Linked DNA regions of Homo sapiens: regions 1, 3 and 4 are each linked to region 2. Evidence: fine-mapped expression QTL. A gene starts in region 2. Each other region holds a variant in brackets. All regions are shown on one strand. Distances are between the middles of the regions. Region 1 overlaps PIK3C2B (phosphatidylinositol-4-phosphate 3-kinase catalytic subunit type 2 beta). Region 2 holds the start of PIK3C2B (phosphatidylinositol-4-phosphate 3-kinase catalytic subunit type 2 beta). Region 3 overlaps PIK3C2B (phosphatidylinositol-4-phosphate 3-kinase catalytic subunit type 2 beta). Region 4 overlaps LRRN2-AS1 (LRRN2 antisense RNA 1).

Region 1 (5,379 bases), 31 kb after region 2:
GAGCCGGCTGACTCGGAAGCCAGAGGAGCCAAGCTTCTACCAGGTCCTCCCCTGCCCAGACCACTGCTTTGACGCTTTCTTCCTCAAATAGCATTTACCCAGAAGGCACATGTGTCTGAGTCATCTCCTCTATCTAAGGGTTCTGGGTCTCTCTCTGCTTTGGGTCCATGGGGCTTGTGGATATTGAGGCTTTAGACCAGGGCCAAGCTTCCCTGGGCACCATTTGGGCCGCCCACCTGCTCTAGCCTCAGTAGAGGGGCTGGGAAAAACAGCTGTCTGCTCTGCTCCCTGTCACGCCTCTGGGAGAATCCCCCGGAAAGCCCGTGTTGCAGGAGAGGCCCAACAGCACTGGATTGCCTTACTGGCTGCCTCACGCTTATCAGACTGTCCCCTCCTGAAGTGGCTTTGGCCACACTCTTGTCCATCTCAGCCAGAGCTTCGCCTCCTTCTTCAACTTGGCTCCTGGTCTCCTAGGACAGCAGATACATGTATTCCCGGATGTCCCATATGTTCTTGTGCCCCTTTCATTGGATGTCGAGTGACTAGAAAGTCTTTTCATCTAGAGTTTGAGTTTAGGTCTGGAGTACCTCATAGGGAGGGGACACCACGAGGAAAAAGGCACTGAGTCGTCTGCTCTTCTCTTAAAGGTGGGCTCCCGGCCCCACACTGTTGCCAATGGCCATGAGTTGTTTGAGGTCTCAGAAGAGAGAGATGAGGAGGTTGCTGCATTTTGCCACATGCTGGATATGTAAGAGTTAAAGAATGGGGTGGGATTTGGGAGGGCTATGGGGGATGGGGAGGGGGGCCATCCATTTCCAAACTTTCTTTAGGAGGGAAGAAGCACCATAATAAGTAAATCTCAGTTCATAGCTATGAAAATGCTTCCTACAACAAGTGTCTGCAGGGTTTTTGAAATCTTAGAAGTCTCACATTTTTAGCAAAATTCATGAAACCTCCATTGAATGGTCAAAGTATCCTGATCACTCTAGAGTCTGACCCTCAGTTGCCCTTAAGAGCAAATGCACCCCAGCTGGCGATAAGAGTGTTATCTGGAACTAAAAGAGAAAGGAAATGGATTCATAAAAAATTTTCCATTAAACTTAGCATGGAAAGCTTTGTCATTTTAGAACTATTTGTACTGTTCAATGGTGGGAAACATTTTGCAATTATAAGAGAAGTGTCAAGAAGGGGGTTTCTCAGAGCTGCTACCCCACTGCCCCCATCCTGGCCTGCAAATTTGGAGGGCTGGGCTGAGTGGGGACAGAGGGGCTCTTGAGCCTCAGAGCATGAGGTTCCCAACAGATGTCTTCTTGACTACTCTCTTCTAAAGGCACAGTGAGGGTTTTTTTTCTTCCTGTACAGCCTTCGATCTGGCTCTGACATCCAAGACTACTTCCTCACTGGCTATGTCTGGAGTGCTGTCACCCCTAGCCCAGAGCACCTCGGGGATGAGGTCAACCTGAAGGTGACTGTGTTGTGTGACAGGCTTCAAGAGGCACTCACTTTCACCTGCAACTGTAAGTTAGTGAGGGGGGAGAGGATGTGAGCATCCCTTGAAGTGGGGTGGGGATGACTGTGTTTTGACTCGATTTCCACCTCATCTTGTGGCCCAGATGAAGGGCAGTGAGGATGCTCCTTTGGGGGTGAGGGGCTGGCTATGGGGCCAGCATTCTAGTACAGTCACTTTCCTCAACTCTGAACTACTTGCCTGCTTTATCTGGTTGGTGATGGTGCTGGAGAATACTTAGCTGGAAAGGGGGATCAGGGTGGGGAAACTGAGACCCATCTGCCTTGACATCCATCATGATTGCTCCCCCTACCTTACCCTTCACAGGTTCCTCCACTGTAGACTTGCTTATCTACCAGACCCTGTGCTACACCCATGATGACCTGAGGAATGTGGACGTGGGTGACTTTGTGCTAAAGCCCTGCGGGCTGGAGGAGTTCCTGCAGAAGTGAGTGAATGGGTGGGAGGTAGCCCCTGCCTTCCTGGTAGTAAGATTGTGAGGGGGCTTCATGGGATTGGTGCTGGGACCGGCCTGGCAGCTCCGCCCCAATCCCACAGTCAAGACTCCTGCTTTCTGGGCACACTCTCGGCCACGTAGCACTTTCCCCAGGAGCTCTGTCTTCCAGCAGGGTTGGCTGACGTCCTGAGCCAAGTCTGCTGTGGAAAGAGCTTGGAGCTGGGATTAGGCAAAGACTAGGTCATATCTGCTTGCAGATTCTGCTTATGGAGAGATGTGTGTATTTGTGGGGAGGGGTGGGCTTGGGGAGACTATATGGGTAGTGCTGTATCTCCTGCTCTAGATTATGTGTGGTGTTTTTATGGCTGGGGCAAAATGAGGACTGGGCAGAAGTTCCCTTGTGGAGCCCAGGGGAGAAATTACAATTACTGTCTCTCCCCATTCTCCTGCCAACAAGTCTTTTCCCCAGCTGGCCCGTGCAGCTAGTTATCCTCCTCCCAAAGGCGTGCCTCCAGCTCCTCTCCATCCAGTGCCCTCTCTGGAAAGCAGCCTCCCTGGAAAGTCTGATGTGGACCAGCTGAGGCAACCCCCTTTCCACTACCCTGGGCTCTGGAGGGCTGCAGTGGAAGAGAGGCAGGGGCAAGGTTATCACTTCTCAGATGGTACAGCTGTGTGACAGCAGACAGATAAGATCTGCTTTCCTCTCTTAGGCTTCAGAGCCGCTCCTGCCCCCAGTCTCTGTCCACTTGGAGGAAGCACGTTTTGGGAATAGAGAAAGGAGAGACCTGTGTCTCACTTCTTAGGAGTGCCCTATAAGTGCCACTGCTTGCTTTTTCTCTCTCTTACATTCAGGTCTAGATGCAAGGATGGTTGATCTATGTCTAGAGCATAAGATTTGGCAGTCAGGATGGAAGATTCATTTCTGGACTTCTTTCTTTTTTTGAGACAGAGTCTCACTCTGTCGTGCAGGCTGGAGTGCTGTGGCGCCATCTCACTCAGCTCACTGCAACCTCCGTCTCCCAGGCTCAAGCGATTCTCATGCCTCAGCCTCCTGAGTAGCTGGGATTACAGGCATAAGCACCACCACGCCCGGCTAATTTTTGTATTTTTTAATAGAGACTGGGTTTCACCATGTTGGCCAGGCTGGTCTCGAACTCCTGACCTC[G/A]GGTGATCTGCCCGCCTTGGCCTCCCAAAGTGCTGGGATTACAGGTGTGAGCCACTGTGCCCAGCTATCTGGGCTTATTTCAAATTTAAGGATATTGTGGGGTCCTTTCTGGCCTCTGCCTCCTCATCTCGAAGCTAAGGGAAAGGAAAGAGGCAGGGTTCTGTATGGTACAACTCCAGGGTACCCTTCAAATGTGCCCCACCTTTAAACTCACTTATGTACACACTTTTCCCCTAGAGGAACAGGAGGGGTCCTAGACTCAGGGTTGCCTGGCAGAGAGAGTGCCAGGTGGCCTGCCACTGTTAGAAGGGAAAAAGGGGACATAGTGGATAAGTTGGAGCTCCTGCTGACGCCATTACACAGGTTTGAATTCGGACTTGCCACTTACTAGTTGTGAAGGCTGATTGATGCTCAGGGCCCTCTGTAAGCTGCAGTGAGGGTGAAATGTGAGAATGACCTGTGAGCAATCAGTAAATACCAGCAGGGAAGGAGCAGCCCACGGAGAGAAGTCCTAGGGCTCTGGGCTGCACAGATACTGCCATTTCCCTTGCAGCACCCCAAATCCTGGAGCCCCTGGGTCCGGAGGTAGTGGGAGCTGTCAAGTTCTACCTTCCTGCTAAGACTCAGGTGAAATATTCTTAGTGAGGTGGGACAGGGTCAGCGGTCCTCAGATCACACCCCTCATACTCTCACTTGAATGCACAGAGAGGAAGGCCTTCCACAGAGAAGATCAAGCAAGTCCCCAGGGGACCTGTGTGCATGACTCCTGGCCTAGGAGCCCCACTCCCACCCAACAGAAAAGCACAATGCTGTCTCCTGGCCCAGCCCCCAGACCCCCAACACATGACAACTGCCTGGGATGGGGGTGGAAAGGACGCTCCGGGGGTTCCAGAAATCTGCTAGTTCCCAAGGAAGCCCTGAGATTTTCTACCCCTGCCTGGCAGGAGGGGCTGATACTGAGGGGGTGAGTGGGTTCAGGATGCAGGCTGCTCTCAGATAAGAACCTTGAGGCAGTCCCGTGGGAGGGTTGGGTTTCCTGCCACCTCCCCCAGCCCCACCACACTCTTCCTTCCTCCCAGGCTCTCCCACCAGGCCCAGCCCCACAGCCCAGCCTCACCACCTCCAGGTTTTGGCTGCACTTCAGTCTTAGATCTGAGAGGGTCTAGATCGGAGATTTGGTCCTCTCAGGATGTGGAGAACCCCTCACTCGAGCCCTCATGGGACCTAGACGACCCTGGGCCCTGCACCTCCGCCAGCTTTTACATATACTGCCCCCCTTATGCTCCTGTCCTCTCCTCTCCATTTCTGGCCTAGATTCCCAGCTCTGCTGAGGAAGGAAGTCCTTTTCCGGCTTCTGTTACCCAGCTGCTGAGGCCAGGCCCAGGCCTGCAGTGCTGGCCTGGAGGTAGTTCTCCCTCTGCCCCTCCTCTTGGGTTTCCTTGCTGTTGAAGGTGTGATTTGGGAGAGAGGAAGAGGTTGGATCGCCGAGGGCTCCTAGGCCTTCTCTCTGAAAGGGGGAGTCTCACACATGGGTGCTTGAGCAGGTGGGACTGGCATGCATTTGGGACTTTTCAAGAAGTCATAGAAATTTGTAAGGTTATTCACAAGCAGGCAGGGCCAACAGATGGAAGGCAGAAAAAGAAGTTGGGTGGGGACACTGATCTGGAGGCTTGGTAGGCTTGCCCCAAGTTTTTTTGGCCTCAGCACCCTAGTTGGTAGCATTGGAAGAGGGGTCTCTCGCTGAGCTCCCACCCTGGAGCCTGAGCACAGGTGGACTCCAACATGTCTCTTCCTGGTTGTCCCCTATACAGAGGCCCAGAAGATAGGGCTTCAGCAACTGCTCCCTGTGATGTGCCTCTGTTTCCCCGCTCTCTCCAACAGTTCCCAGCCCTGGAGTGAACCAGTGATTACCACACGGGTAATAAATATCTAAGAGAGTCAATATTTATACCGGCCAAGGATTAAGTATATTAGGTGGCTTTTGTTTAGATAGACCTCTGTTCCTTCTCCTAAGCTCTACCGTGTCATTTTCTAGGAGCCAAAGTAGGGTACAACACGGGTACTACCCCCTTACCTAAACCTTCTTTCTGTATGTCTCTCCCCAAGGCTAAGGTATGTATCTCCCTTGCCACTGAGTCCCCAGGATGCTAATGGTCTTGTCCCTCTACCCTACCAGCAAGCATGCCTTGGGCAGTCATGAGTACATCCAATACTGCCGCAAGTTTGACATTGACATTCGGCTACAGCTGA
Region 2 (5,379 bases):
TGAGACTCGGTCTCAAGAAAAAGAAAAAAAGAAAAACAAAAGAGAGAGGGAGGGGAGAGAGAACCACCCGTGGAAGCTGTGATCTTTGGTTGAGGGTGGCAGCCAGCGCACTGTGACCCCAAAGAGAGGAATCCTGAAGAATAAATATCCAGTTTCCCCTGACCTCCCTCCTTATTCAATCTTCAGCCATGGCCCCCATTGGCCAACCCAGTCTAGGAAGCCAGAGGGCCAGGAAGATCTGGAGGGGCAAACGGAAGACATGCAGTGCATCTTCCAAATCCTTCTCTATAATATGCCAGGAAGTCTTTTTCTGGTCACACTACTTCCCAGTTCCATTTGTGCACAGCAGGTTCTCTGTCACCTACAGCACCTAAACTTTTTGGCATGCCCTGGTTTCTCTTTATTCAATTTTTTCCTTACCAAAATGCATGATAAAGCCTGTGATCTGATCCTCCACTCAGCTACCTATGCCTACTTCCTGTTAGTTCTTTCCTTCAGACTTTTCACCCCAGCAGCATAGAACCACCAGTGGTCGCCGGGCGCGGTGGCTCACGCCTGTAATCCCAGCACTTTGGGAGGCCGAGGTGGGTGGAACACAAGGTCAGGAGATCGAGACCATCCTGGCTAACACGGTGAAACCCTGTCTCTACTAAAAATACAAAAAAAAAAAAAAAAAAAAAGAAAAAATTAGCTGGGCATAGTGGCGGGCGCCTGTAGTCCCAGCTACTCCGGAGGCTGGGCCAGAAGAATGGCGTGAACCCGGGAGGCAGAGCTTGCAGCGAGCCGAGATCACGCCACTGCACTCCAGCCTGGGCGACAGAGCAAGACTCCGTCTCAAAAAAAAAAAAAAAAAAAAGAACCACCAGTGGCCCCTGTAACACTCTGTTCTCTCAGGCTCCTGAGCTTGACCTGATGACAGACACAGAGTAAGCTGTCATAAATATTTGTATGGTGAAGAAGTGCACGGACACGTTTTTTAACCCCTGTGGCTCCTGAGATCAGGAGTAGCATCATATACATTATGACATATGTGCAGACCAAGCTGCCTTCAGTTAATTATCAAGATGTTTCACCTACATTCTCTCCTTTGATCATTACGAAAGCGTGATAGGTGAGGACGCTATTCTTGATATTCAGAGGGTGAAGTGGAATACTGAAAGTCACAAGCATTGGGTACAGAAGGCACTGTAGGATCAGAAAGGGGAGTGATCCCTTTCCTCCCCATCATAAGAGTCACAGCCGACACTTCTATAACAAAAGACAAGTTAACCAGAGAAAAGCATAACAAATTTATTTAATCATGGTTTTACTTGAGAGGCTGAGGACCAGGTGTTAATCTTCATAGTCTGTCGAGAAAGAAAGAAGAAATGAGGGCAGTGGAGGAAAACACGATTCACGTTTTTAGGAAAATATACTTTGAGATTAGTGATCGTTGGTACTATGCAAACCAAATGCAAACGAGGAGCTGGCCAACTCATGGTTTCTTTTGGGTGGAGCCTTTAGGAAAATTCTTCCAGAGACCACTGCTGGAAGAAAGGTATTTAGAGTAGAAAATTTAAATATAACATATTGTATGAAAGGTTTTTTTTTTTTACTTTTTTTTCTCACTACCCTAGTTGGGTTGGAGGATCCTCTATCTCCCCTCCCTACTTAGGTTGACTGCTGTTTCCTGGATCGCAGCTCGGAAGATCCACCTGGGCGAATACAAAAACAAACGAGACTCCCCTTCCAGAAAGGGAGGAAGGAAGGAGACAGAAAGACGAATGACACTGAGCGTGTAAAGCCCGGAGACAGCCTCTCTCTACCCCAACCTAACCCTCAAGGTAGGGGATCCCCCGAACATCGCTACCGTAATTATGGTAGAAATTCCTGAAACGGATAACTGGACCTCAGCACCGTCATTTCTAGCAGAATGATTGAGCTTTCCTCTGACCCAAAGCCAAGGGGTTCCAGCAGGGGAAACTAACGACCATCCGCAAAAACCCTCACCCAAGTGGGGAGTGGAAATCCTGGCTCTTGGGTTGCAGAGCACAACTTGACGCCAGCGCGTTTCTCTTCCCCCACGCAATGGCAAGTGGGGCGGGAGTCGGAGGGGAGAGGAGGAGAGGAGAAGAGAAGAGGAGGGGGAAGGGGAGGGGAGAGGCGAAGGGCGGCCCGGGTTCCAGCAGCCGCCCCGCCCTCCGGCTCGCGGCGGATTCGGCGCTGCGGCTGGAGCCGGCGGCCGGGTGCCTGCCTGTCCAGGCAGGGTCTGGCCGAGCGTCGCGTCGCCGTGCAGTGCGCCGGGTGTCCGGGAGATGGCTTCCCCTCTCTCGCCCGCTGCTGCCGCTATTGTCTCACCCGGGGTGGCCTGACTCTGCGAGCTCGCGCACGCTCTCGGCGGAGAGCACCCCTCCCCACCCCCACAAGCTGGTCCTTGCGCCCTTTGCTGCCTCTCCCTCTGCCCCTTGGAGCCTAGGGTCTGTGCGGAGCCTGGAGAGGGGAGCGGCCCGGGAGCAGGCGGCGTGCGGCCGGCCAGCTCCTCTCGCGCTGGTGCAAGAGGCGCCTGGAGCCGCAGAGCGAGCCCGGGAGGCGCGGAGCGAGCAGCCCACGTCGCCAGGCACAAGACACGTCGGATGTTGCAGCAGAGCCAGCAGCTAGCGCAGGTAGGACACGCATCCTGCGGGTTGCATCGGCCCCAGCGTCTGTAAAGTGCCCCCAGAGTGGAGGCAGCCGAGGTCAGGGGGCTCTCCCTCCAACATGGCAACAGCGGAGGTGCAACAATGGAAGCAGCCGAGGGTTCCTGGCGGCGGGCTGAGCGGCGGACGCCGTGGGAGCCTGAGCTCCTGCCCGCCGGGCAGAGCAGGTTGCCCCTCACCCCACTCCACTCCACTCCAGCAGCTTCAGGGCCTCTGGGGCTCCAGGCACCCGCGTCCCCACCCCCTTCTCGCTAAACACACTTCCTGGCTCCCAGCTGCAGGGCGATCTGAACCAGTCAATGGCTTTGGGGTTTGTTTATTTAAGATAAGAAATAAAAAAAGCAAAACCTGTCCTGTGATGGGGTTAGTGCCTTCTGTGGACTGGGTGAGAAGTCGGCATCTAGCCTGGGGAATGTGTACGTTTCTTAGTCGGGCGGAGGGTAGAATTGGATTCTCCCTTATAAGGATACTGCAGCAAAAGGAGACTGAAAGCTTGAAAGAGGGAGAGGGACCCTCAGGCCTGAGTTCGCCGGTGCTGGGAGAAGGCGCTGCTCTCCTGGCCTATACTTGTCCCTCATTTTCAGCTCCCGACAGCGGTGACTTTGATGTTGGAGGAGCAATCGCAGCAGGAAGCACAAGCAAGGCTGCCAAGCTGGTGTGGGGTGGAGTAGGGTGGGGAGCCCAGGGGCTTGGCAGGCTTCTGGATTGTGGGAAGAGGTTACCAAATGTATGAGGTTAGTGCACACACCCTAGTTGGCTGATGTTGAAGTGTGTGTGTGTGTGTGTGTGTGTGTGTGTTTTCTGCCATTGCTCTTGCTCCTTCAGGCCTGCCTTTTCTCCTCTCCACCCGCTTCTGGGGTCTTCGTAGCTTCCCTGCCCCAGCCCTTCCAATCATGCCTGGGATGGAATCGCTGTATTGTCTCTGGCAGCTCTCTTGGGCTGTTTTTTCTCAACTCTGTTGGAGAGTTTTGTACCCTGGGCTGGCTGGTCCCAGCATGGCACCAGATTCTTTAGCAGGCGGCTACCCGGGCTCCAAGAAGTGGGCCAATGCTGCCCCTCCTCCTTGCTCTAAACTACCTATTTGGGATATGGCCAGGCAGATGTAAGCAATTTGTACTAAATTCCAACCCTGAATCAGTGCTGAATGAAAACTTACTCTGTTGCTGCATCAGGCTTTGGGAAGATATTAGGAAGAGAAATGGCCCAGGAGGTGGCAATGCCGACCCCCAAATACTTCCCTCTCCCCAACTCCAGCTGCCGATCCCAGAGCAGACAGGCAGTGAGACTTTGGAATCCCAGCTCCTCCAGAGTCTGGCTGGCCCATCTTGAGGTTGTGTCCATGGAAAAATTAAGTCGAGGCACATTTTATAGCTCTGCTTGGCAGCCAGCATCTGAAGAGATGGTGGCTCTGAGCTGGAGCCCTAGACCCAGGCTGTGGCTGCTTCTCCTTTGGCCTTTGGGTGAGCCTGAGGTTTGATTGCCATGGCTCTGAGCTTACTGCTGAGTGTGTATGGCTGAATCTGATCAAGCTCTCAGACCCGGCTGCTTGTCTATTTCCTTCTCCACTGGAAGCATGAGTGAGAAAGGGCCAAGGGGGTGTGCTGGGTGAGGAAGGGTCAGTTTATCTGGGGACTTGGGCTGTTTCTGGGGGAGCTCCTTTGGACTTCCTTGGTGGTCTGGAATGCCTTTGGTCTTTGTCATGACCTAGTATGCTCTGGCAGATACTCTATACCCTCGTGGGCCTTTGGTCCCCGCTTGGTGGTGTCCCCACTCCTCCTGTGCCTGGTGCTTTGCATCTATATCATGTCTGTGGTGCTTCAGCTGGGATGGCCCTGGCCTGGACCAGTGGGTAGAAAAATGAGGTCTCTGTTCCTTTTAGGGGCTTGTAACTAGCTATAAGGTTCAGGCTCCTCATGTTCCCAGGATGTGAACTTGGACATCATAATGTGAAGTAGTAGAGAAAACAGTGTCTTGGTGTGACTTTCTTTTTAGCTATGTGAGCACAGACAATTTGTGGACCTAAGATTTAGTTTGTATATTTGTAAAATGGAGGTGGGGGAGTAGCCATGGCTCACAGGATTAATAATGAAATGCTGCTTACCAAGAACTAAACAGAATCATGTGTGCAAAAGTACCCTGAAAACTACAGAGTACTTTACAAATGATTATTCTTACTGGGTTTAGCCTCCCACATAAGGGAGGGAGATCTGTGAGGGATGGGGATAGGGTGGGATCTGAGGGCCACATGGAGTAGGGAATGTTTTGGGACCTTTTCTTTCTTGCTAAGGAAAGAGTAGTGTGACAATACCAAGGTAACTGCTGTATTCCTTGGGTATTTTTCTTTAAATAGTGTTGGCAGGATGGGAACTGGGAGAGAAGGAAAGGATGCCTCATGATATTTGTAGGAATTGAGGAGGGATAAACACCTTCCAAAGGCTGGCTACTGCCTATAGAGAGGATAATGCTGAGCTGGCAAGTAATGTAATCACTAACACTCACTGATGTCAGCCAGCTAGTAAATGATAGAGGTGGGATTTGAAGCAAGCAGTCTCACTCCTTACCCTGTGTTCATAGCCTCAGTGCTACTCAGAGAGATATTGGGTCTTGGGAGAACAGAAAGGGACAGCAAAATTGTGGAGTTCATTCTTTTTGTTTGTTCTTGAGACAGGGTCTCTCCCTGTTGCCTAGGCTGGAGTGCAGTGGG
Region 3 (5,379 bases), 57 kb after region 2:
CATCTTCCGCTGCTTCTCCACCGGCCGGGGCAGAGGTCAGTTGGGAGTAGGGGTGAGGGTGGAGGAGGGGACCGCTTTGCTTATTGTCCTTCTGCCCATTGCCAACACAAACTGTGTCCTCCTCCAGGAAAGTGAAAAGGGCAAGATTATTTCATGAGAAGCTGTGGGATAGCCTTAAAAGGGAGGCATGGGAGAAGACTGTTATAAAGTAAAACAGACTTGGTGCCGTGACAGCCAAGCATATTGTGTAGACTTTGGATCCTGATTAAAACAAACCAATTGTAAGGAAATATTTTTTGGGCCAGACATGCTAGCTCATGCCTGTAATCCCAGCACTTTGTGAAGCTGAGATGGGAGAATTGCTTGAGCTCAGGAATGTTTGGGACCAACCTAGACACCTCATCTCTAATAAAAATTATAAAAAATTAGCCAGGCCTAATGGCATGTGCCTGCAGTCCCACCTCCTCGGGAGGCTGAGGCAGATGGATCGCTTGAGTCCAGGAATTTGAGGCTGCAGTAAGCCATGATGGTGCCACTGTACTTCAGACCAGGCGACAGAATGAGACCCTGTGTGAAAATATATATATAGAGAGAGAGAGAGAAGGAGAGAGACAGTTGGGGGAAGTTTGAATATAGATTGAGTTAGATTAAAGAGTGATTGTTAATTTTTTGGATGTGACAATGGCATGGTGTCTTTGTTAATTACACTTGAAATATTTATGAGTGAAATAAAGTATCTGGGATTTGCTTTAAAATACTCCAACCAAGGTGGCAGGGAGTGGAGAAATAGGGTTGTGTGATTAGCAAACAAGATTAGCAAAATGTTGACAATTTTTGAAGCTGGGTGATAGTTACATGTGAAGTCATGATACCATTCTTTTTATTCTTATATATATTTTCAAATTCCCATAGTAAAAGCTAAAAACAAAGGGAGCAGCAGCTATGAACTGGAGAGACCAAAAAGTCACAGTATGGAATAGGAAATGTGGGAATGACCTTCCTTTCTATGGTTATTCTCTTCCTGTTATTATCAGACTTAGTCCAAATGCCTTACAGCTTAATTTATAGGGAAGCATGAGCACAGTCCTTGTAGTCCTCTCCCTGCAGTCCCCTTCATTCTGGTCTGGAACGTGACCCCCATTTCTCCCCTCACAGGGATGGTGGAGATGATCCCTAATGCTGAGACCCTGCGTAAGATCCAGGTGGAGCATGGGGTGACCGGCTCGTTCAAGGACCGGCCCCTGGCAGACTGGCTGCAGAAACACAACCCTGGGGAGGACGAGTATGAGAAGGTAGGGTTGTGGGTGGGGAGTGCGTCTGGTGTGTGTGTGTGCCTGATGCCGGCACACAGCTCTTTAACCACAAGACCTGCACTTGCTCAGAGAGGACAGCTCAGCTTTGTTGGCAGAAGGACCTACCCTTTCTTGGTTGACTGGTGCCTCCAAATATCTGGGGGTGACTCACTCAAATGCCTCTTGTAAGCTGGCTGAGAAAATCCCCTGATGCTGGACTGAGAAACTTTCACTGAGTTCTCCTGGCAGATTAAGTCTTGGAGGAGGCGCCAGCTTTTGAGAGCCTATCTGTATCCCTCCCAGTTGTGGATCCTCTTCAGGTTCCCTTATGTTCTCAGAGGGTTCAGTGGTACTTTCTAGAAAAAGAGTTGGTTGGAAGAGACTTTAGAGATCATTTTATGCCAGCCCCTTCTTTTCATAGCTGTGAATTAAGATTCACTCATTCATTCCTAGTTATGGAGCTGATATGTGGCAAGGCTGTAACTCAAAGCTAGGATTGAGGTTAGATATGAGACAGAGACGAGTGAAAACAGGGCTGGCTGGTTCCTGATGAAAGAAGATTAGATTAGAAGTGGAGCTTTCCTGGGTGGTAGGGCCCTGGTAGCCTGCTAGGGTCCGTGGCCTGTTCCCAGCATCACAACTCTAGTCTCTGGGTTAATTAGGTTGAGGAAAGTAGGGACACTGGGAAGGAACAAATCACAATAACCAAACTCACAAGAGACTGGCTATAGGCCAGAATGCTAATTCGTATAATTTTAACTTCAAGGGACCCAAATACTGATTTATATTGATCAATGTACTTTATCCTGGAGGGAAAACCAGCATGGGCAGCCAAGGTATAATCAGAACATTGTTTAGTGAATGTGTAATTAGATGATCTTAAATGGCTTTCAGTGTTTGTGTTCCCCGGGGCTTAATTCCTGGCCTGCTGGGCCCTCTTTGCACTCTTCTTGTGCCAGCTCATCCTCTTATTACTTCAACTACCACCTGTATCTTGATGACCTCCGAAGCCATTCCTCTAGCCCTCTTCCCTTCCTCCAGGTGGTTCTATAGCCACCTTCTTGCTGGACTTTTCCACCTACGTTTCACCCACGTCTCAAACTCGGTGTAGGCAAAACTGAGCCTGCTGTCTCTCCTTTGCCTCTTGAAACCTGCTTTTTGTGTTTGCTATCAGTCAATGGTGTGACTCTTTCTGTGCATTTACCCAAGCCAAAGCCACGGTCTTCCTGATGCTTCCCTCTATCTCACTTCTGTACCATGCTCTGTTTATTCTTCTTCCCAGCTATCTCTCAAATCTGTCCTCTTCTTCCTATTTTGTTACCATTGATTTTGTTCAGCTCTTTGCTGTCGGTCCCCTGAACCACTGGAATGCCTCTCCTCCATCTAGAGCCAGCCTCTGCTTGATTTCAGAGGTGTTTTGTTGTTGTTGTTGTTGTTTTGAGACAGAGTTTTGCTCTTGTTGCCCAGGCCGGAGTGCAATGGCACGAGCTTGGCTCACTGCAACCTCCACCTCCTGGATTCAAGCGATTCTCCTGCCTCAGCCTCCCAAGTAGCTGGGATTATAGGCGTGCACCACCATGCCCAGCGAATTTTCATATTTTTAGTAGAGAAGGGGTTTCACCATGTTGGCCAGGCTGGTCG[C/A]GAACTCCTGACCTCAGGTGATCCACCCACCTCAGCCTCCCATAGTGCTGGGATTACAGGCATGAGCCACAGTGCCCAGCTGTTGTTTTTTTTTTTAAGTGTGGATAAGTTCTTCAAAGCCTCTGTGTATCCTAACAGATAGCATTGCACACAGAGCCTTTTATAATCCAGCCCTGCTGACTCCTGTAATCCCATCCACTGCAACCTACCATCTTATGCTAACCTATGCTCCAGCTAGGTTACTAGCTAGATCATGCGGTGGGGGCAGGGGGGGCTACTACTTTCATTTCTGCAGTACTGTAGGCAGTAATATTTCCTTTGCCTGGAAAGTCATTTCTTCCCTTCTCATTCCTCAAAACTCTGCCACTCTATGCTATACATTTCAAGGCCCTCTACCCTTGGAGAGGAGTAATGATTTTTTTCCTTTCTACTACCAACCTCCCATATACTTACTCTTTATGCTAATATGCATTTTTCAGGTATTAAACACCCATATGCAGAGGCACTGTACTAGGTGCTGGAGTTGTGATTACTCCCTGCCAATGTAATAGTCATATATGTGTAAATGTATGGAAATAATACTAAATAATAATAAATGTACAGATGAATGTATAAGAATATAATAAAAATAAATGTACAGAAGAATGTACGAGAATACACACAGAGAGAAACTAACTCTGCATGTTCATGTTTAATCTCAGTCTTTCAAAGATAGCTTCTCTGCCCTTCTAGCCTTTCTCCAAGAATAATGCTGGTAGTTTCTTTTTTTTTGAGGCAGGGTCTCACTCTGTCACCCAGGCTGGAATACAGTGGCACAATCACTGCAACCTCCACCTCCTGGGTTCATGTGATCCTCCTGACTCAGCCTTCCAAGTAGCTGGGACTACAGGCATGTGCCACCATGCCCAGCTAATTTTTCTATTTTTCGTGGAGATGGGGTTTTGCCATGTTGCCCAGGCTGGACTTGAACCCCTGGGTTCAAGAGATTCACCCACCTCAGCCTCCCAAAGTGCTGGGATTACAGGCATGAGCCACCACCCCCAGCAATGCTGGTAGTTTCATTTGATGACTTCCAGAAGAAAGAAACTAGAGGTATTTTCTCTTGGCCACCTACTCAGCAAGAGAGTATCCCACACCCTACACATGAAACCCCTGAAATCAGAGGCAGAGTGTCCCTTTATAGAGTGAGACTTCTTGCCAGTAAGTGGCTAACACCCTGCATAACTTAGGGAGGTGAAAAGAGTTTAGTCATTTACCCACAGGCACACAGCTATTTTCTCAGCCAAAATAGGATTCATTTAAGGTAGAAAGAGCATCTGTGACAGGGAGAGGATTTGATAGAGATCCAGGTCACGACTGGGAGTTACGCGTTATGCTCCTTATTAAGTGCTTTTATTCATTTATTTTACTTTCTAAGAAATAGTCTTTTTCTTCCAGAAGATGAATGCTGTGATTTCTTTATAACCTTTCCATTCTTAGTTTCTGGTGGATCCATCATCAGGTTGTAATTCGACAAGTAGCTGGGTGGGTGCATTCTGTGTGGAGCTAGTTTTGCAATAGGCATTGTGAAATAGGCAAGAAGCTGTTAGGAGAACAGATCTGTAAACCCCATGGGACTGAAAGGGCAAAGTCAGTGCTGTATGAATGGAGGTGACAGTGCATCTGTAGGGGTTCAGAGGAGGAGAAGTCAGTATGAGCTTGGAAGGTCTGGAAAGTTATGGGACTCAAGGTCATTGAAGGATGATGGGTGGAAATTTATGGAAGGAGGCAAGGAGGGCGGGCATTCCATATCTAGTAAGCTTTCCCTCATTCCTAATTTCATGCATTCCTACCTGGCTATGACGATCATTGCTCTCTGCTGATGTCTTTCCTGAGTTCTTAGGAATTCTATAAACCTCACGAAGAGGATTTTGAAGGCAGGAGTGGTCTATTTCCTCATTCCATGTAGTTTTTCTTTCTGGAAAGACAGATAAGGGGATGGATGTTGACCAGACAAAATAAGATGGAGTCAACCCCTCACCACTCCTCTCCTGCTTTAAACTCAGAAATATCTCTAACATATTTTACCAACTAAAGATGTCCCATTTTCAAGTGTAAAACACTCTCTAGACGTGTTAAGCTGCCTCAGCTCTTCTTTGGAGTGCAGTGACTTTAATTAGATTAGCATTTAGCTGTTACCAAGAACTCTGGAAATGGGAATTTTATTTGGGGCAGGAAGAAGGATGATAGAATTCTGAGCAGGGTCAGGAAGAGATTCTTAAGTTGGCTTCCTCAGTGGCTGTACTTAAGATCATCACGGCCAGTTGGGGAAGTTGTAAATGTCAGTCTTCCCATCTCTTAAGGTCCCCTCAGTCTGGGCTGATCAAGACTGGGCTCTTGGATCAGTCCACTGTCTTTCCAACCGATCTCCCTAGGAGAAAGAAAGGAGAAGATGGTATTCAGATGA
Region 4 (5,379 bases), 110 kb before region 2:
TCTGTCTCAAAAAAAAAAAAAAAAGATCCTGCTGCAAAAAATCGAGGAAGCAATGAAGAGTGTTTCCCTCCAGGAGTCTAACACTTGGTTAAGGAGTCCAGTATTACCAGTGAAAGAATTTCTGTACTATGTCAAGTACAAGTCAGCGATGATCAAGAGTTAGATTAAGGGGAATGCAGATTAACAGTTCAGAAGGGGAGGTCCAAGAAGACTAGAATGGTTGGCGAAGGCTTTGCCAAGGAGGAGGGAGTGGGCTTGTTTTTGGAGGAGGATGTAGATCCACCATCACCACCACCACCTTCCTGTTGGCCTCCTATATGGATACCCGCCACACTCCAGTCAAGAGAGGCCCAAAAATCTACATCTAACATGCCAGGCATATTGAGGAATTAAATTGTGATGTATATGGTCAAGATCTCAGGAACATAGACATGCAATGGACCAGGCCATGTGGCAGAGGAAGCCAAGGGCTAGAGGCACCCCTGGAGGTAGTGGAGGAGGGCACATCTGAGAAACCACTCGAGCCCCCGGATGCCCTATGTCCAGCCCATCTGGGTGTGTGGCCAGCAGGCCGGTGCTGAGGGTCCCCCATAGGTCTGGCTGCTTCGGCCAGCAGGAGGATGGAGAAGTGCAAAGTCACATTTCACTCAGTGAAAGGGAAATCGGCAGCAATTAGCAGCCTTTCCTTCCATGCTGACGTTCCCTGTATGGGCAGGGAGGCTTCCCAGCTTTCATCCCGTACATCCTCTGCCTCCAGTGGGACCCCAGAGAGGCAAAACAGGTGGCAGGAATAGGAAGGCAGACCTTCCTGGGTACGGGACCCAAAGCAACACTGTGTTTCCACCTCTCAGCCTCCCCACTATTTTTATAGAGAAGAAACAGGCTAAGGTGAATGCCAAGGGGAAAGTAAGTTATAAATACATGCAGAGAGGAGAGAAGAAGTGGGGTATGTGTGTGGAGGAGGTGCAGTTAGGGAAAATGGCAGCTGTGATTCTTGGCTGTTTTGGTTTCAGTTAAGCACCCAGGGCCTTCTCCTCCAGCTGCCTCTCTGGGTCCCCACCCATCCCCAGGCAGGGGAAAGAGTGCCTGGGAATCCAGTGCTACTCAAATGGGGGGAGTCTGAGTCAGGGTTGACCTCTCACTTCCTATACCCCTTACCTTCACTTTGCTTTTTTTTGGTTTTTTATCCAAAGCCTTACCTTCCCCACCCTTACCTTCACTTTGCTTTTTTTTGGTTTTTTATTTTTATTTTTTTAAAAGAAAGGGCAGGTTCTATGTTTCGGTTTTGTGTATGTGTATGGTTTGTGTGTGTGTGTTTTAGTTTTGTCATTGTTGTTGTTTTTTGTTGTTGTTGCTGTTTGAGACGGAGTCTCACTCTCTTGCCCAGGCTCACTGCAACCTCTGCCTCCCGGGTTCAAGTGATTCTCCTGCCTCAACCTCCCAAGTAGCTGGGACAATAGGCACACAACCACCATGCCTGGCTAATTTTTATATTTTTAGTAGAGATGGGGTTTCGCTATGTTGGCCAGGCTAGCCTCGAAATCCTGACCCCAAGTAATCTGCCCACCTCAGGCTCCCAAAGTGCTAGGATTATAGGCATGAGCCACCACGCCCAGCTTGTTTTTGTTTTTTGAGACAGGGTCTCACACTGTCGCCCGGGCTGGGGTGCAGTGGCACCACCATAGCTTACTACAGCCTCAACCTTCTGAGCTCAAGCAATCCTCCCACTCTAGCCTCCTGAGTAGCTGGGACTACAGGCAAGCACCACCGTGCTTGGCTAATTTTTGTATTTTTTGTAGAGATAGATTTTCACCATGTCGCCTGGGCTGCTCTCAAACTCCTAGGCTCAAGTGATCGCTTGGCCTCCCAAAGTGCTGGGACTGCAGACATGAGCCACCGTGCCCAGCCCTGCTTTGCTTTTTTAAAAAATGTAAATCATCTACTTTCTTTTCTTCTTATTTTTAATGGTGGTAAAAAGCACATAACAAAATTTATCATCTTAACCATTTATAAGTGTTCAATAGTACTAAGTATGTTCACATTGTTGTAAACCAATAGCCTGAACTCTTCATTTCGCAAAACTGAACTCTGTATCCATTAAGCAACCACTCCCCATCCCCGCAAGCCCCAGCCTCTGACAACTGCCATTCTACTTTCTATCTCTATGAATCTGACTGCTTTAGATACTTCATGTAAGTGGAATCATACAGTATTTGTCTTTTATTTCACTTAGCACAATGTCCTCAAGGTTCACCTATGTTGTAGAACATGTCAGACTTTCCTTCCTTTTTAAGGCTGAGTAATATTCCCTGGCATGTATGTACCGCATTTTGTTTATCCATTCATCTGCCAATGGGCATTTGGGTTGCTTCCACCTCTTGGTTACTGTGAATAAGGTTCCTATCAACATGGATGTATGCAAATATCTCTCTTCAAGACTCTGTTTTCCATTTGTTTGGATATATACCCAGAAGCGGGATTACTGGATCATATGGTAATTCTATTTTTTATTGTTTGCCATAGTGGCTGCATCATCTTACATTTCCACCAGCAGTGCACAAGGGTTCCATTTCTCCACCTGCTTTGCGTTTGAGTCTTTGAGAACTAGGAGCTGCCCCAGCACCTCTGGACTTGAAATGAGAACCCAAGACCTCAGTCGGGTTTGGCCTGCAATCTCAGCCCTTCTCTGCCTTCTCTTCAGAACCCCCTATTTTCATTTCTGGAGAAATCTCATGGCCATTATCCAGCCCCTGAGGAGTCATGACCTCCAGCAGGCCTGAGAGGAACAAAGAAAACCAGGGCTTCCAAGGCAAGGAGTAAAACAAATACCCAAGAGCAGTGGTCTCAGGTAGAAGCTCCCACAGCAATGAGACAGATTTGGGATGAGGAAGCAGTGGGTTACCACCTCCTCCTGAGTTGGCTGCGTGGTCCACAGCAAGGGCAAGGAGATGAAAGGAGAGTCTGGACTTGGGAGAACAGGTGTGGAAGTGCAGGAACAGG[C/T]GTGGAGGTGCAATGCCACTACCACCTCTCCCCCATCCACCATGATATCCTCCAACCCAGCCTCTCTGCTTTGTGGTGGAGAGTCAGCAGCCAATAGTCTCATTCTAAAATCCAAATCTGGTGCTACCATGTCCTGGCTTTAAACGTTTCTGAGGCTCCTTACTGTCCTCAGACTAAAGTCCAGATGCCTTGCACAATTACAGCCCTGCATGACCTGGCCTCGGTATCTCATGCTGGCTCTCCCGTCACTCTGAGATCCAGCCACATCAAATGTGTTTCAGTTGCTAGAACAAACCACACTTGCTGTCTCCTTTGGGCCTTCATACACAATGTTCTCTCAGCTTGGAACATTCTCCTCCACACGACCCTTTTTCCTTACCTTTTCATCTGGTTAGTTCTACTCATCCTTTAGGTTTCAGCCTAGATGGCACTTCCTCCAGGAAGCCTTCCATGATGTCCTCCAGTTCTGAGTCAGGACCTCTTCTCAGTACAGCCACAGGACTTATTATACTAGGGGTGTAGTCTCCTGACTTGGCTGTGTCCTTAGAATACTCGGTTCCATGAAGAGAGCAGAGTCTTGTCCACTTCTTTCCCTAGCACCCAGAACATGGCCTGGTTCAGTGTAGGTGTTTATTAAAAGCTTTTTGAAGAGTGAATGAATGAGTGAATGTGTGAAGGACTGAACCATGAGGATGATGAGACCTGGGAGTGGTGGGTGGGCATCAGACTCCTACCCCCCCGCCCCGCACCCACACAACCACAGAGGGCTCTAACCTGCCACCATATCAAGTTAAAAATCAGCCAGAGCTTTTGATTTCTTTCTTTGCTTTTAGTGCCTCCCCAGAATTATGGATAATAAGGGTAGGGGAAAAAAGGGGCAGGGACCACACAAATGAAACACAAACCCTTGAGTTTCTTTGGAAAACTGCTCTAAAGCTCTGGGTGATGGGCATATTTAAATTTATCTGGCTTTACCCTGCCACAAGGCACTTAGTAATGAAGAATTCATGGTTTCTTCAAGCCCCTCCCTGACGTTCCAGCTTCCGACCAAAGATCATGTTCTGCCCCCTCCAGACCTCACCACCTCCCACCACCCCACCCACACCTCCTCTTCCTCTTGCTAGGAGATGGCTATGATCTATGGATGCCTCCCTGGGAGCCGGCCCGGCCCCCAGGCCCAAGGAGCCAGGTGTGACAGTGATGTATGAGTCTGGGCTGGACTCTAATTGGCCATTCCCTGTGGAGCATGGAGACTTAGCAAGACAAAAATCTACCCTATTGCATCCTGAATCTTTTCCTGTGGCTGATAAACAGCAAGTCCCTGAACTGGGAACATTCAGACGGGAAGAGCAATGATTCAGGGGAGAGGAGGGGAGGAAAGCCTGCCTCTAGAAGTGCTCGTGCTCACCCCAGGGCACCAGAGCTTCATATTCTAGGGACACAAAGGATTAGAAAATTTTATGTAAGTACTATTGTCATGTCATTTTAACTAAAAACAGCATGCGGAAGCCCAAAGAATTTCCACATCTATTAGCCCTTTCACTCCCATGCCGTCCAGGAGAGGATGGGAGGGGTGGGCAGGGGTCTCTGTACAACTAGAGCTACTATTATGGATTATTATTATTATTGCCCCCATTATTACATTGTTTATGACACATTATCCTCAATCCTCCCAAAAATCCCAGGAGGTAGGGAGTCGTTTGTGTCATCTAAAGCAGTATACAAAATTATGTTTTACAAGAAGACTAAGTATAATTCTGAATTCATGATTCACGAATAATTCATGATCTTGTTTTATTTTGCTTTGTGTTTGTTTGTTTGTTTTTTAATGGACTTTACTTTTTAGAGCAGTTTTAGGCTCAGGGCAAAATGGAACAGATGGTACAGAGAGTTCCCACACAGCCCTGCCCTCATGCTCACAGCCTCCCCCGTGCCCCACCACAGTGATCCATTTGTTACAATCAATGACCTACATGGGCACATTGTTGTCACTCGAAGTCTCCAGTTCACATTAGGGCAGCTCTTGATGTTATACATTCTGTGGGTTTGGATAAATGTATAATGACATGTATCGACCATTAATTACAGTATCCTACAGAGTACTTTCACTGCCCGAAACATCCTCTGTGCCGTGGTCAAGAGTTTTAACCTCACATTTAGACAAAGAAACAGAGGTCCAGAAAGTTTATGTGATTTACCCAGTGCCAGGTCCAGGATTCAAACCAGAGTCTATCGTATTCCCGAGCCCAAGCCCTCTCTCCCCTCTAGCACCAACCTCTCCCATGGCAGGTGGGTGAAATGTGGACCTTTGCTACCCAGCTAGCCAGGGGCAATGTTGGAATGGAAGTCCAAGATGCTTGCCCTAGTCCCAGATGTCTG

What was found. PIP is the estimated chance that this variant, and not a neighbour inherited with it, causes the effect.
Region 1: its variant is the best candidate, but not a certain one, in a credible set for the expression of PIK3C2B in whole blood (TOPMed, PIP 0.50).
Region 3: its variant is the best candidate, but not a certain one, in a credible set for the expression of PIK3C2B in esophagus mucosa (GTEx, PIP 0.70).
Region 4: its variant is the best candidate, but not a certain one, in a credible set for the expression of PIK3C2B in whole blood (TOPMed, PIP 0.78).

What each region holds. Positions count from the first base shown.
Region 1 is chr1:204,460,588-204,465,966 of GRCh38, reverse strand. PIK3C2B (phosphatidylinositol-4-phosphate 3-kinase catalytic subunit type 2 beta) reads left to right here. Exons shown (of 33, transcript NM_001377334.1): 3 at 648-748; 4 at 1,363-1,517; 5 at 1,835-1,955; 6 at 5,306-5,379. Among named protein-coding and RNA genes, the nearest start is that of PIK3C2B, 32 kb to the left of the region's middle. RefSeq lists a silencer at 3,472-3,766. The variant G/A (reference allele first, on the strand shown) is at 3,130.
Region 2 is chr1:204,491,619-204,496,997 of GRCh38, reverse strand. It overlaps PIK3C2B (phosphatidylinositol-4-phosphate 3-kinase catalytic subunit type 2 beta), which reads left to right and starts at 2,193. Exons shown (of 33, transcript NM_001377334.1): 1 at 2,193-2,642. LOC124904584 (translation initiation factor IF-2) reads right to left here and starts at 5,247. Exons shown (of 2, transcript XM_047439554.1): 1 at 5,237-5,247; 2 at 1,266-2,822. The coding sequence starts at 5,247. The coding sequence ends at 1,802. RefSeq lists silencers at 2,044-2,513, 4,073-4,152 and enhancers at 2,614-2,743, 2,814-3,003.
Region 3 is chr1:204,434,848-204,440,226 of GRCh38, reverse strand. PIK3C2B (phosphatidylinositol-4-phosphate 3-kinase catalytic subunit type 2 beta) reads left to right here. Exons shown (of 33, transcript NM_001377334.1): 22 at 1-35; 23 at 1,156-1,292. Among named protein-coding and RNA genes, the nearest start is that of PPP1R15B, 26 kb to the right of the region's middle. The variant C/A (reference allele first, on the strand shown) is at 2,934.
Region 4 is chr1:204,601,152-204,606,530 of GRCh38, reverse strand. LRRN2-AS1 (LRRN2 antisense RNA 1) reads right to left here. Exons shown (of 13, transcript XR_007066814.1): 7 at 3,380-5,379. Among named protein-coding and RNA genes, the nearest start is that of LRRN2-AS1, 40 kb to the right of the region's middle. The variant C/T (reference allele first, on the strand shown) is at 3,001.